Regions from separate parts of the Homo sapiens genome. Here region 1 is linked to region 2. A link means that fine-mapping ties the variant in region 2 to the expression of a gene that starts in the linked region. Tissue or cell type: skeletal muscle. Region 2 holds a variant in brackets; the other region holds the start of a gene. All regions are shown on one strand. Distances are from middle to middle.

Region 1 (4,400 bases), 180 kb after region 2:
TTTAATATAATGAAAATTTGAATCTGATATAACTAATTGCTTAAACCTCTCTTGCATGTACTACAGCAAGATCATAAAAGATATCAAAGCATAAAGAGCAGAATAAGAATTCTTTATCTGCAACAGGATTCCCTATGGTATTCTTCCGTAATGTATAGGTCTGTAACAGATATTCAACAAGAGAATTTAAGACAAGATATCATTTAACATACGAATTCAATGTTACCTTCAGGATCTCATCATACATACTTGGAGGATTACTTAGTCTGACAGATAGTTGTCTTGTACTCTTTTAAGATACCATAGCAAGCATTTGGCATAATTAGGTGTGTTGCTGCCTTATCACCTGCTCAAGGATAACCAGAGAGCAACCCAAGAATTGTGGTGTTTTCAGAAATTCAGATTTAAGGCAAACTTTGAACTTTACTATTTATAAATCATATATTCAGCTACCAAAGCCACCACAAGCTACAGACATGCTTTGTTACAAGGTACATGCTTAATCTAAGAAAAGTAGATACCTTGGTTTTTTTGTTACTGTTTTTAAAAGTTTCTATCATATTTCTGAAGACTATGCTATATGGCTTTAAAACAAGAATTAAGGTTAAAAACAAAACAGCAGGGTTAAGGTCAGATAAAACTATTTTAACCATCCTTCCTTCACATAAAGAAGTCTCCTGTATTATTAGGATTCCTAAATAATCTATACTTTTCAATCCATTCTCAAATAGCCAAATATTTATTTTATTTATTTATTTTTTGAGACAGAGTCTTGCTCTGTCACCTAGGCTGGAGTACAGTGGCGCGAATCTTGGCTCACTGCAGGCTCCGCCTCCCAGGTTCAAGCGATTCTCCTGCCTCAGCCTCTCGAGTACTGGATTACAGGCACCCACCAGCACGCCCGGCTAATTTTTTGTATTTTTAGTAGAGATGGGGTTTCACCATGTTGGCCAGGCTGGTCTCAAACTCCTGACCTCAAGCGATCTGCCCACCTCGGCCTCCCAAAGTGCTGGGATTATAGGCGTGAGCCATCATGCCCAGCCTAACCAAATATTTAAATAAGTATGTGCTGACCCTAGAAACATTAAGAGTCTGACAAAATGCCTTAGCAGTTTTCAGTGTCAGTTGTTTTTCTTCTTTTTAAGTTTTATTGTTTTTAATTGAGACATCATAATTGTACCTGTTTATGGGCTACAATATGATGCTTCAACACATACATACATTGTTTAATGACCAAATCAGGGTAATTACCATACACCTGTCATTTCTTGGTGGTGAGAACACTGAAATCCTCTCTTCTAGCTTTTTTGAAATATACATTATCATTAACTATATTCACCCTACTGTGCAATACAACACTGGAATTTATTCTTACTAACTGCAGCTTTATACCCATTGACCTACCTTTCTACAGCCCTCTCCGCTCCCCAGCCTCTGGTAACCACTATTCTAACTTTCTACTTCTAAGTGCCAGGTTTTATTATGCCATATATAAAAATAATAATGATAGTACAAGTTTTAAAGTTTTTTTAAAAGAGCGTCAGGACAGTTATGCTGGAAACTCTCCCTGGGACATTAAAAGGTGAAATATTTGTTTCAGCCAAATGGTTTCTGCCTCACCAACTACTGTGCAAAATTCCCAGCCCTGAAAATGACTGATCCGCAGGGGACCCCAGCTGAGTTACCTGACCTACCTGTTGAGCAGATGCCCCCAGAGAGCTTCAACTTTGAGACTTCATTAAGCTGTGTTCAGCACAATTCAAAAAAGTTATTGATACAAAGAGGAGTTATTCCTGGAGGATCACTCCTAAAACGCCAACAACTAGTTAGTGAGAATACCTGAATAACAATAATGATAACCTTTCAAAGAAGCAGCAACTATTATTTTACAGAAATAGAACTAAGTGGCACCTGAGTTATAAAGACAGTTTGGAGGAATTCTGCTGCATACGATCTTTAAACAACTAAGGTCCCCGTTCTCAATCTGCAGCTCTGAACCAAAGAACATTAAGGGCATCACCTACTCTGAGATGACGGTGGCCTCTTTTAACCCCTGTTTATAGAATAGCTGGCTGCAGGTGAAAGGACTGAGATGATGCTGTCCTTGTCCCCCAGAAAGAAGCAAAATCATCTTTTTTACAGGGCAGGTACTTCCAATCTAACTAGGGAAACATGCGGCAGTTCGCCAAGCAGTAAAATCTCAATACGCATTTATTTAACAAACGCCCGTTATGTCTTAGGCGCGGTTCTTCGCGCTTTATAAAAGTTAACTCATTTGATTCTAAATAATAACCTTTTAGGTACGGAAAACGGAGAAAAAATCCATGAAGATGGGGACTTTCTACCCACCCCAGCCGCTTTACAAAGAAATAACCAAACTTCTAGTCCCCAGGTCAAAAATAAGGAGATTAAAACCCAGACAGGGGAGGTTAAGGACAAAAACCGCAGCCGCGCTGAGTCGTTACCGTCCACAGGACACTGGCGGTCCGAGTCGCTGCTCATCTCCGCTCCCCCACTCCAGGCTGCCCCGGGCGCGGCTCCCGCAGTCTGGGCGGCGACGGTGGTTGCCGAGGCAGCGCCCCCCGGGGGACCCGCAGGTGCACCAGGCAGCCGCGGAGAGAACACCAGTGCAAACGGAGGGACGAGGACGCGCGCGCTCCGTGCTCCTTTCACTTTGCTATCCAAGGCTCCAGTGCCAGGCTTTTGCAGCCCGCGGCTCTCTGTTAATATTTGGAGCGCTGCTGGCTGCTTTGCCACAGGCTTGACCCAGGGCCAGGGTCTCTCCGCCTTTGCGGGGAAGGGGTGGGGAAGTGTGTAGGAGCGTGGGTAATTTGGGTAGGAAAAGGCAGGGAGCACCCTACCAGCCCTCCTAGGATACAGGCTGGGCAAGGCAGATAAGTGGCTCTTGGCCTGGTGACCTTTCCAGCGTCCAGTTCTTTGGAGTAACCACTTCGCAGAGCCTCATCCAGCCGGAGGAGCCCCAGGCTAAATATGATGCCTGCACCAGGTCATCAGCTGAAGGAACCTATTTTAGGGCAGCTGTGGTGAACAGGATCCACTACCCATTCATTCAGCTCTGCCCTGACATTTAAGAGTTCTATAAGTGAATCCCTTTTCCCAGTCCACTTTCAACTTTGTGTGTGTGTGTGTGTGTGTGCCTCTGCAAAATTTTAAGTTTGGAAAAGGGAAATGGTAGGGGGTGCTGGGCATGTTGTTACCTTATAGTAATGAGCAAAAGGAGGTGGTAAAAGGTGAAATGTTGTAAAAGGCTCAATATTTGTCTAGTCTTTAGAGTAAAATTTTCTCCCTGTGTTTGCTCCAGCAAGCCCTTGGAATTTTAGTTTCAGTCACGTTCCTATTGTAAATTTAAATTTAATTAGTGAATGCGGCATTTTTGTCATTCCTCCAACAGGCTTTATGTTTAAAGTTAAATTCCCTTAGGAGCTTTTAACTGAGGCTGTCGATGGGATAGAAACAATCAGTTAATGCCATTTCAAAGCACATTTATGACAACTACATTTACGGAGCTGCATTTGTAATCCAGATCTCAATGGACTAAAAAAAAGAAAATCGCTTTACATTTGCAAATGCCTAGTGTCACTTCTTAGCAGGTGAATTTTTTTCCTCTGGCAAGCATAATTATAGTTCACATCGGTGAAGACAGGGCAGACCTTTCTTCCAAATAAGAATAGATTATTTCTAATATACCAACAACCAGAGTTACTAAAGTCAAGACCCTGCAGATAAATTTCAGAAAGACTGTGTAAGTTTCTGAGAACCCCACATACTCTTTTGTATCCAGTCTCAGCAGAAATATCACTGAGATCTAGTGATGAAAACGTAAATAACACTAGGAGTTAATCTTCTGTAACTCTATTAAAATATACTGAAAGAAGTGCAGTCGTGTGTTGATTAATGATGGGGATACATTCTGAGAATGCATATCGAGGCGATCCATCATGCGAACATCCTAGAGTGTATTTACACAAACCTAGATGGTAAATTCCACAACACACTTAGGCTACATGGTATAGTCTATTGCTCCCAGACTGCAAACCTGTACAGCATGTCACTGCACTGATTAGTGTAGGCAATTGTAAGACAATGGTAAATAACTGTGTATCTAAACATAGAAAAGATACAGCAAAATTATGGTATAAAAGATAAAATAACATGTTACATCTGCATAGGGCACTTACCGTGATTGGAGCTTGTAGGATTGGAGGTTGCTCTGAGTAAGGCAGGCAGTATTAAGTGAGAATGAAAGCCCTAGGAAATTACTGTACACTACTGTAGACTTCATAAACACTGTACCTTTAGGCCATACTAAATGTATTAAAATATTTTCCTTTATTTAATAATAAATTAATCCTAGCTTATTGTAACAAATTTAAAAACTT
Region 2 (4,400 bases):
CTCAAAGGTTTGAGCAAGCAGAAGAAAGAATCAGCGAACTTGAAGATAAGACAATGGAAATTATTAACACAAGAAATAGAAAGAAAAAAGATTAAAGAAAAGTGAACTGGCTTTTGGGACACCATCAAGTGAATCAATGTACACATTGTGAAAGTCCTAGAAGGAGAAGAGAGAGAAAAATAGACTATTTAAAGAAATAATGAGTTAAAACTTTCTAAATTTGATCAATGATATAAATATAAACCTCTAAGGTGAGGGCATGTCAAAAGGACACAGAAGTCAATCTGTGAAAGCTCCCAGTGATCAAACCTGGAACCACCTGAGCATAAAATGAATATCCTCGAGTCCACACTGATATAAGTACAAAATTAAATACATAAATAACTATGGAGAAATGCATGTTTTTCTTACAAAATAATTCCAATTGATAAATGTAAAAGAGATGACAGAAATACAAAGTGGGGCCAGGTGCGGTGGCTGATGCCTGTAATCCCAGCGCTTTGGGAGGCCGAGGCGGGTGGATCATGAGGTCAGGACTTCAAGACCAGCCTGGCCAACATGGTGAAACCCCGTCTCTACTAAAAATACAAAAATTATCTGGGCATGGTGGTGTGTGCCTGTAATCCCAGCTACTCAGGGGGCTGAGGCAGGAGAATTGCTTGAACTGGGACCTGGGAGGAGGAGGTTGCCATAAGCCGAGATCCTGCCACTGCACTCCAGCCTGGGCTACAGAGTGAGATTCCGTCTCAAAAAACAAACAAACAAAAGTTAGCAGTAGAACACCACAGGAATAATTGCAGCTGGCAGCATCCACTGATGACTGCAAAAATTAGTGAGCAAAACTGTAAGGAGAAATAGGATACTTGCATAGCCTTAAAAATCTCCCCTAAAATATTTATTAATTATTGTTAGTGGTTTTACTTTATGTCTACAGATTCTTTTATACTCCTCACTCCAAAAATGGAGCTTAATTCTCCTCCATAAGTAACTCACTTATAAATAATAGTGCATGAAAAGGGAAAAACAGTAAACTTCACAATGGAGAAACCTGCCAGGTACTACCTTAACCAAGTGATCAACATTAACATCATCAGTAATAAGACCAGACACAACCCAGACATCTTAGTCTAAGGCTAATTTTGTCCTACTATTGAGGCAAGGCTTTTTAAAGTATTCTACCCAATGCTTTTCTAAGTATTCTACCCAATGTCTTGTAAATCATGAGGTTTTTCAGCCTGGCTAGTAGAAGGAGGCAATATTACAGGCCCTGTATGAGAACTGGACACTGTTTCCTTAAACCTTCTAAGGGAATTCTTTCTTCAGCCTCAGGTAGTTTTCTTACATGCATGTGCTGATCAGTACTCTGTTGAAGACTCAAGGGAGACTCTCTGCGGATCAGAATTTTCTCTCAATGTAGCTCTTTTCTCTTCAGTAATCTGTCCCAATCCTCTAGCTACCTGGTCTCCCAGTGTTTCAAATCCGTCTCTTTAACTCAAAGAGTCTTCTGAGATCCATCTTGGCTTCTCTTCCTGTGCCACACTTAAAAAACAAACAAAAAACACCTCTCATTCATTAAGCTGGAGCAATCATTGGGTTCACCTCATTAGCTTCCTATTTCTCAGGGATCACTGTCCTTCATTACCTGATGTCCAATGTCTTAAAAACTTATTTAATATATTTTGCCCTGTTGTTTTGTTGTTTCATGTGAAAGAATAAATTTGGTTCCTGCTACTCCATCTTGTAGAAATGGAACACTTTCTTTAAATACTTTAATTCTAGCTTTTACATCTATTATTTTATCACCCAATCCTTTTATCTCTCTGTTCATTTATTTTACTTCTGACAGTTTTCTCAAGTCAATCTTGTGCTTAATTCATCTAAACATCAAATTATTTTATATTTATTCATTTATTATCTATATATCCAACAATCATTGCTAATATCTGCTGTTTCCAGTGCAGAGTTGAATTACAGAAGCACAAAATTATATGCAGGATACATAAGTGATTGAATTAATAAAATAATACTT[C/T]TCAGGATTATTTAAGAAAGAATATTTGGGTAAACGTAAAGCACTATAACATGTTTAAAAAATAACTGTTTATATTTTCTACCCACAACTAAATCTTACCCCCTTTAATCTCTCTCTCTCTTTTTCTGACTCTGTGAGGTCAGTTTATTACTCCCTTTTCTCCCAATATGCTATGGATGTTTTCCATTTCTTTCCTGGTGATTCAGGTTTGTCCTTTAAGTTCGTGAGAAGCCCACAGCAGCTTAAATTGGTTGAGTTTGATGCTCTACTTCACCACTGTAACTTACTCAGGTCAACTCTCTACCAGGAAGCAAACTGATATCTAATCTTTGTGAAACCTAAAATATGCTTGACTCTTGTGATCCGGAATAACTGTGGCTAAGTATTTTTTCCTCGTTTTCAGCATTTAATGGCTGTTTTGGTGAAAAAGAGAGAAAAGGGATTTCATGGGCAATTACTCTTCAAATTAAGAAAAATCATCTGTAAGCAATGAAACTCACAATGGGGTCCAAAGTCACCCAAACATGCAGCTAGTGCTCTTAATTCAGCAAACTCTTTGAAGAATATTCATTGGATTTTTTATTTTGAAGATAAGAACCAAAGGCAACCCATTTAGAGCATCAGGCCTAAGACTTTAAGACATTTAGTTATGATTACAGAAAGCAGCATCACAGAACATTCAGCAACCACGGGATTTGAGAGCTGCAGCAGCAGCAGCATAAATGCCAACCATTGACTTCTAATTACCAGGCGCTTCTTAGAAGACGGCAGTTGGCACAGTGGCTGGTGATCCAGTTTTTCTTCGGTTTTCATATGCAGTAGTAAGTTATGATTGTCAGTGTGTTTCAGTTTTCTGAATTCTATCATATCTCTTTTTGGAAGTTACTTGCTCATCCAAATTCATTCACCACTTGCCTACTTAACTAAGCTTCCTTCCAAATTTCTCTGGTAATGACAATCCTTTTTTCCACTTACCCATAGTCAAAGACTTGCATCAATATTCCACAAATGCCCTTACTCATAATAGTGCACCCTTACTATTGGTCCTTTAGAATAGTGTGATCCACACACATCACGTATATTAAACTGCTGACCTGTGAAGGGGAAGCTTAAACACTGGCTGTAGTGTTCAGGTCAATGACCTTGGTACCAATTTGATCTCTTTCGGAAGTTATGTATTTGTAGCTCTACCAGGCTCTGTTAACTCTTGCTTTACTCTCCATCTTTGGAAATTGGATTTTATTGTTTAGGCTTGGCCTATGCAGCATTCAATCTACTCTTTTCCCAAGATGTAAAGTATAGTGGTGGTCACTGCATTTCAGTTAAAAATCTTATACTTCCTTTTTGGCTTTGGAGAACCCAGACCTGCTGCCAACACTTGACAAACATCCTGACCAAGTCAGCCCCATCCCTAAAAGTACCATGCCTTCAACCTATAATCCAGTCCCTGATCTGTAACTACATACATACACCATAGGCCAGGAGAAGAGCTGTTGTGTGAAACCTATATCTATTAAGATGTTTCCATGATCTTAAAACTCAGACCAATAGAGATTGGAAACACTATGCTAGAGCATAAATATGCAGGATTAATCACGTGACTGTTATTTCACTGATTTAGCTAGCTATAGTAGGGGTGGAACAGGCCTGGGTGCCACACAATTAGTTTATTCATAATCTCTAGGATCTGTTCTTCACCCTTGTTTGTTCACATTAGGAGAAGAGATGCAGAAATTCTCACCTATACCTTATTCAGCTACAACTACATATGGATATCCTGAGCTTGCAGAGAGTAAAGATTTTTAACATTTCCTCACAATTTGCATACCAGATTAGGGCGATATGCAAACCAGCAAGTCACTATAACATGAATGTAAAAGCCCCCCAGAAGCCATTCAGGTTGGATTGCATAGCTCTGCCCTCAAAGATGTGAGAATACCAAAACTGATTCACAGGCTCCAGACAACGGACAGTAAAACACTGATTTGGGGATATTCGTCCCAGAATGAGAAAATTCTCTCCTATAGATCCAAATTAGAGGCCTTAGAGGGGTTTTTGAACACTTGATCTAGTCATTCAACTAAAAATTCAACCCACATGTTAACTTAGATATGAGATGAAAGACATATTTTTCTATTTAGCATGGGTTCTTAAATGCGTCCCAAGAGAGGGGAGTTGAGATAATGACATTTGCTCAAGCATCCATTGCTCATCCTTTTCTGTACCCAGCCCATCAGCAGAAAGGAACCACACCTGCAGAGAGAACAGCTGTGTTTCCATTACGGTTTAACAATCTTCTCATCCCTTCATTTCCGGCAGAGCATGACTTACCCAGAGAAACTTCAAAGCTTTCAAATAACAGAATAAAAAT

The links. PIP is the estimated chance that this variant, and not a neighbour inherited with it, causes the effect.
Region 1: GADL1 starts here. The variant in region 2 is fine-mapped to the expression of GADL1 in skeletal muscle (GTEx, PIP 0.99).

The regions. Positions count from the first base shown.
Region 1 is chr3:30,892,113-30,896,512 of GRCh38, forward strand. It overlaps GADL1 (glutamate decarboxylase like 1), which reads right to left and starts at 2,549. Exons shown (of 15, transcript NM_207359.3): 1 at 2,466-2,549. The coding sequence starts at 2,502.
Region 2 is chr3:30,715,435-30,719,834 of GRCh38, forward strand. No RefSeq gene overlaps it. Among named protein-coding and RNA genes, the nearest start is that of TGFBR2, 110 kb to the left of the region's middle. The variant C/T (reference allele first, on the strand shown) is at 2,030.